Linked DNA regions of Homo sapiens. The protein of the gene in region 1 purifies or fractionates together with the protein of each later gene. This does not show direct contact. Each region holds a gene or a part of one and is shown on either strand. Other genes may lie near its edges.

The links.
Region 2: the proteins of ALKBH2 (region 1) and ARL3 purify together in Homo sapiens (affinity purification with mass spectrometry; one large-scale study listed by BioGRID and IntAct). This does not show direct contact.

The regions. Positions count from the first base shown.
Region 1 is NC_000012.12:109,087,518-109,090,624, forward strand, and holds the end of ALKBH2 (DNA oxidative demethylase ALKBH2), read right to left. Parts: intron 2,691-3,107; coding exon 2,492-2,690; intron 996-2,491; coding exon 689-995; 3' UTR 672-688; downstream 1-671. UniProt on the Homo sapiens protein: Dioxygenase that repairs alkylated nucleic acid bases by direct reversal oxidative dealkylation. Can process both double-stranded (ds) and single-stranded (ss) DNA substrates, with a strong preference for dsDNA.
Region 2 is NC_000010.11:102,700,701-102,704,523, forward strand, and holds part of ARL3 (ADP-ribosylation factor-like protein 3), read right to left. Parts: intron 1-3,823. UniProt on the Homo sapiens protein: Small GTP-binding protein which cycles between an inactive GDP-bound and an active GTP-bound form, and the rate of cycling is regulated by guanine nucleotide exchange factors (GEF) and GTPase-activating proteins (GAP).

The DNA.
Region 1 (3,107 bases):
TGCACTCACCCGATGCAGACCTTGACTTTGATGTTGAAATGAACACACTTGTTTTACCCAAGTCTGGTGGAACAAATGCCCAATCATGTGACCTTAAAGTGTACTGCAAAGCTGTAGCTTTAAGTAATTGCTGTTCTGCCACTGCTTACTCTGAAATCTACCATCAAAGAAAGATAGAGAAAAGGGGCTGAGCCTTGGAATATATGGTTATAAGCAGATCTTTCTTTGGTCAGAGACCAGGGTTTGAGCCAAGGCTGTAAATGTGAACAATAGCTGTGCAAAGCCTTTTAACCTGACTTCTTCATTTTGTAAATTATTATGCATTAAGTAGCAGCCCAATAATCTGATTTCTAGTTTTATTTTCAAAGTAAGTAGCTTCTTTTGGGAAAAACCTAAGTTAAACTAGTAGTTTTGCCATAATAACTGCTGATTTATGTATTTGCTAAAGGTACTTTTGTATCTGCTGTGTATTATAGCAATAAAATAATCATTTTGTTAGAAAAAAATCACCTGGTGTTCTTTTGTAATACACTGATCTGTTACAAACATCATCTTTCTGAATTCTGCATTGTTACATAACAAGCCCTACGCTTTAAACCTTTCTGTGTTCCCTGTTGGTAAGGGAAATGCCAGCTCCCTCTTAGAGTCGAGAGGGAAAGAGAAAAGAGAAAAACTGTTAAAAATGTTTTTATTTTTTAGTAAGCAAAATTTTACGAAAAGTCAGATTCACCCGTGGAGCCAGAACCTTCTTTCTCACGGGAAGACTGTGGTACCAGTGCGTGTTGGTCGGGTGGTTCATCATTAGTAAGCTCCCGTGGGCCAGCGGCAGCCTGACCACCGCCACCCTCCTGGAGGGGCTTTTCCCACGGGAATCCTTATGCCGGAAGACAAAGTCTCTGCAGGCACCGAAGGAGACAGAGGCAATGGGGCTCCCAGGGGCCAGTTCTCTTTCATCATCTCGGTGCTCCCCGATGTGGTCACAGCCATCTTTATACCTGCAATGAGAAAACAAACACAGTGCATAAAAACAACCCTCTCCTGAAACTCACCAGCACCGCCAGCCCTCGTTTTCCTCACAGTGTGAAACAGCACTCTGCATGGCTGTACCTGCCGTTGTTTCTGCGAGGGCTTGAGGTCCACAGTGGGCTCTAAGATAAGCCAACGCTGAAGAGGTCTGTTGACGTATTTGTTCATGTGACTTATTTATTATTATTTTTGAGAGGGTCTCGCTCTGTCACCCAGGCTGAAGTGCAGTGGCACAATCATAGCTCACTGCAGCCTCGGCCTCCTGGGCTCAAGTGATTCTCCCACTTCAGCCTCCCAAGTAGCTGGGACTATAGGTATGCACCACCCCACCTAGCTAATTTCTTTTCTTTTGCAGAAACAGTTTCACCATGTTACCCAGGCTGGTCTCAAACTCGGGCTCAAGCAATTCACTCTCCTTGGCCTCCCAAAGTGTTGGGATTACAGGCATGAGTCACCACGTCCGGCCAGTTCATGTGCTTTAAAACTGAAGACACCCAAAGCCAAAATCACGTCTTACTGTAGTTCCCCTGGCCAGTCTATGTAAACCTTTATCACATGATTTTGCCCTGCACTCAAAGGCCATACTCTGCATAGCCCGGCCCCTGCCCACTGCTGAGCTCATGCCATCCCCTTCTTTCCCTCATTCACTGCTTTCCGGCCATCCTGCAGCATTTTTGCTTCACAGACACTCCAGAGTCCCTCTGCTCTCCCTCCAGATGTCTGTGGCTGGCACTCTCCATTTAGTTATCAGCTCAAACGCACTGCCTCAGCCCTCCTCTAACCACCCCATCTGAAGTGACCTTCCCTTAAACCCACCCAGGGTTCTCCACCAGGGTGATTCTGCCCCAGGGGACAGGTATTGGGGGGTGGGGGACACTACTTGCAATCTAGTGGATGGAGGCCAGGGATCTGCTCAACATCCTGCAAGGCACAGGTCAGCCCCAACAACAACGAATGACTGGGCCCAAAATGTCTGCAGTGCTGCCGTTGAGAAACCTTGCCCTAATCGCAAACCTCTCAGCCATTCTCAGTCAAATCGGCCTGTTTAATTTTTTGCAAGATGGTTATCACTGTCTGAAATCGTCTAGGGTCAGGCATAGTCGTTCACGCCTGTAATCCCAGCACTTTGGGAGGCTGAGGTGGGAGGATCGCTTGAGCCTAGCAGTTTGAGACCAAGCCTGGGCAACATAGAAAAACCCTGTCTCAAAAAAAAAAAAGAAAGAAAAAGAGAAGAAGAAATTATCTCATTCAGCTGTTTGTTCAGGAGTTAATCACCTCTCACTTCCTACTCCGGGATGAGCTCCAGGATCCAGGAAGACCGAGTGCTGGCGCTATTCCACTCTTAGAGCCCCAGTGTACTAAGAAATGATTTGTACCAATGAACCAAATAGGGTGGAACCCTAAACACTTCCTTTTGGAGGAGACAGAAGACTTGTAACATTGAGTCCACTAAACAGGGTGTCACCTGTTGATGAGCACAAAGTTGAAGGTCTGTCCAGTCACCCCAGAGACGTGATCCCGGATGCGCTCTAGAACTGGGATCCAGGGCTTTGGAGACAGCGTGAGGCCTGAAAATGTGTAGGTCAGCCCAGCGTCGCCATACGTTGCCTGCTTCCTGGGCACACTGTGCCACTTCCCGAATACCTGGACTCTGGCCAGTGCTCCTGTGCAGAGGAAACATGGCAGTTCCTTTCTACCTGACCCCCATCTAGAAATCCAGATGCCCCCCCCAACCCGCACTGCCATCACCAGAAATCCAGTGCCCCACATACATGCTCCCTGGGTATTCAAGATTGAAAGGGAAGTAAGGAATAACATTTCCCCGTCATTCCATGCAATTTAAACCCCTCTTCAATCATCATTTTGGCTTGCCCCAAATTTTCTTTTTGTTTTGTTTTCTTTGAGACAGGGTCTCCCTGTGTCACCCAGGCTGGAGTACAGTAGCACAATCTCAGCGCACTTCAACCTCCACCTCCCGTGCTCCAGCAATCCTCCCGCATCAGCCTCCTGAATAGCTGGGACCACAGGGGCGTGCCACCATGCCTGGCTAACTTTTTTGTAAGCTCACTGCAACCTCCACC
Region 2 (3,823 bases), on another chromosome or scaffold:
TGATCCGCCCACCTTGGCCTTCCAAAGCACTGGGATTACAGGCATGCGCCACTGTGCCCAGCCGGAAGTCTTTTTTTTTTTTTTTTTTTTGCAGAGTTGTGCTCTCGGCTCACCGCAACCTCCACCTCCCGGATTCAAGCGATTATCCTGCCTCAGCCTCCCGAGTAGCTGGGATTACAGGCATGCGCCACCATGCCTGGCTAATTTTGTATTTTTAGTAGAGATGGGGTTTCTCCATGTTGGTCAGGCTGGTCTTGAACTCCCGACCTCAGGTGATCCGCCCGCCTCAGCCTCCCAAAGTGCTGGGATTACAGGTGTGAGCCACTGCACCGGGCTGGAAGTCTTCATTTTTAAGACAGTTACTTGAGGTGAAACTTTGAGGAAGGTGAGCAAATCAGGGACAGGCAGAATTGCCAGGTGGGGGTCAGTGTGGAAAGAAACAAATTAACAAGCCCTTTGGGGTTCCCAGAGAATGTATTGCATGAACAAGAATTTTTTTTAAAGTCTTCTTGCAAAAATTACATAGGGAAACCAGGATTTGAAAAACCCAGTCAACAGCTTGCTACCACAGAAGAGACATTTCATCCAGAATAACTGGAGTTAGATAGCTTTGGGGATGCCTCCACAAACATTTGTTTCATGTGGTAGCCTGTCAACACTGCTGCCTGGCACAGAAGGAGAAGGCACAGTGCAATAGGACAGGAATATTGCCACCCAATTTCCACTGCGGATACACAGTCTCTGGAGGATAACTGGGGATCCTGCTGACTCTCACTTCTCTAACACGCCAATGACTGAATACATTAGAAGTTCGAGAATTCTAAAGGGAAATGGCTTAAGCTTATTGAAAAAAGTTTCATTGTGACTCACTGGCAAAACTACTTTAGTGTATTTAAAAATTCCACACTCAACAATGATATTAAATGTCAAACTCAGTAATACTGAATCCTTTCTGGAATAAAGCAGAAAATAAATAACAGTAAATCTTGGAATACAAGTAACAGTGAATCTTGGAATTTGACCATATGTATCAATGGGCTTAAACAGCTATAAGTCATGAGACCCAACAAATCTAGGAATTTATTCTGAGGAAATAATAATGATGAATGGGCAAAAACATTTAGAGATGTATATTACATAAGTATTTACATATATAATAACATAGAAAGATGTTCATGATCTATTATTAAGTGAACAAGAGGAGACAGGTTCAGTGGCTCACACCCATAATCCCAATTTTGGGAGACTGAGGCGGGAGGACTGCTTGAGCCCAGGAGTTCAAGGCCAGCCTGGGCAATGTAGTGAGACCCCATCTCTACCAAAAAAAAAAAAAAAAAAAAATTAGCTGGGTGTGGTGGCACATGCCTGCAGTCCTAACTACTCAGGAGCCTGAGGTGGGAAGATTGCTTGAACCCAGGAATTTGAGGCTGCAGTGAGCTATGGATGGTGCCACTGTACTCCAGCCTGGCCGACAGAGTGAAACCCCGTCTCTAAAAAAAATCTATATCTAGATATAGATGATACAAGCTAGTATATCCTCTATGAGCCATTTTTATTTTTTATTTTAAATATACCCATCATATATATGCATAGAAAAAAACTTGATACATTCCTAAATGTGAACAGTGGTATGTCTGACTGGGCATTATAGGTGACTTTTAGTTTCTCAATTGTATTTATTTATACTTCCTAAATTTACTACAATGAGCATTTATTACTTTTTCTAATATAAAACAAAAAACATAATAAAAGTTTGTTTTTAAAGAATATGAAACCTTGACACAATATAATATCAGAGTTACCTATAACACATCAAACAAAGCCTGAAGGTTAGAATGAGAACTTTGGGTTCCTAACTTTGAGTTTATTTCTGTGTTTGCAGTGTGGAAGTCTTCACGTTAGTGTTCTTGAGAGACACAGTTTATTGCTAATACTAAAAAAACAAAAACAAAAACAAAAAAACCCCACAAGCGCATGCACACAAAAACTAGTGCTTCTTTTTCTGGCAGAAATCTTGACACACTAATATGTGTTTTCAGCCCTTCTAGGCTAGATTACTGTAATTTGCTTGGGCTATACATTAAATTTGTTCAGAAGCTGTAAAAATTGTTCATTTGGTAGCAGTTGAAATGACTTTTCCATAAAGAGTTGTGAATCAGTAAGACTCATGGGCCGTGAAGTATGCATGCACACCAGCACAGCCATTCAAACCTGACACCAGGGTCTTATCACGGTACAGTGATGGAAAATAACTCTGGTTTTGCTAAAACCTCTAACCTTTAATGCTCAAACACTTTAAAGTGACTAAGACCAACAAGCTCTCCCTGTTGGCTTAGCCAAAGGTCAGGCATTCTTAGGATTTCCTACAGGGAATGAGTTCTAAGAAACCCACTACAGTTTTTCCAATCAGGTCTTGTCTTTTTTTTTTTTTTTTTTTTTTGAGACGGAGTCTCACTCTGTCGCCAGGCTGGAGTGCAATGGCACAATCTCAGCTCACTGTAATCTCCGCCTCCCAAGTTCAAGCCATTCTCCTGCCTCAGTCTCCTGAGTAGCTGGGATAACAGGTGCACACCACCACATCCAGCTAATTTTTGTATTTTTAGTAGAGACAGGATTTCACCATGTTGTCCAGGATGGTCTCCATGTCCTGACCTCATGATCCACCCACCTCGGCCTCCCAAAGTGCTGGGATTACAGGCATGAGCCATGGTGCCCAGGACTTGTCTTTTTTTTTTTTTTTTTTTTTTTTTTTTTTTTTTTTGTGATGGAGTCTCGCTCTGTCGCCCAGGCTGGAGTGCAGTGGCATGATCTCGGCTCACTGCAAGCTCCACCTCCTGGGTTCACGCCATTCTCCTGCCTCAGCCTCCCAAGTAGCTGGGACTACAGGTGCCCACTGCCACGCCCAGCCAATTTTTTGTATTTTTAGTAGAGACGGGGTTTCACCATGTTAGCCAGGATGGTCTCGATCTCCTGACCTTGTGATCCGCCCACCTCGGCCTCCCAAAGTGCTGGGATTATGGGCATGAGCCACCACGCCCGGCCCAGGACTCATCTTTAAACCTCCACGCTGTGAGCACTATCATTCCCTTATCCTTTATGCTTTGCTTGCTTGCCCTTTTCAGGAAAGAGGAAGGTTGATGAGACTGGATTTAAAAAGGCAGGTAATTGGCCGGGCAAGGTGGTTCACGCCTGTAATCCTAGCACTTTGGGAGGCCGAGGCAGGTGGACTGCCTGAGCTCAGGAGTTCGAGACCAGCCTGGGCAACAACGGTGAAACCCTGTCTCTACTAAAATACAACAAATTAGCCAGGCGTGGTGGCGTGCACCTGTAGTCCCAGCTACTTGGGAGGCTGAGGCAGGAGAATCACTTGAACCCAGGAGGCGCAGGTTGCAGTGAGCTGAGATTGCACTGCTGCATTCCAGCCTGGGAAACAGAACGAGACTCTGTCTCCAAAAAAAAAAAAAAAAAAAAAAAGGCAGGTAATTTTTTTTTCTTTTAAAAATTGATACATATTTGTATTTATTAAGTCTGAAAAGTACACGGTAAAATATTAACCATGGTTTTTCTCAGAGTTTTCTCCTTTATACTTTCTCTGTGTTTTCTACATGCACTACTTTCATAATCAGAGAAGATAAAGCTATTTTTTAAAAAAGAATAGGCTGGGTGTGGTGGCTCACACCTGTAATCCCAGCACTTTGGGAGGCTGGGGTGGGTGGATCATTGAGGTCTGGAGTTTGAGACCAGCCTGGCCAACATGGCAAAACCCTGGCTCTACAAAAAAATACAAAAATTAGCGGGCCATGGCGGTGTGCGCCTGTAATCC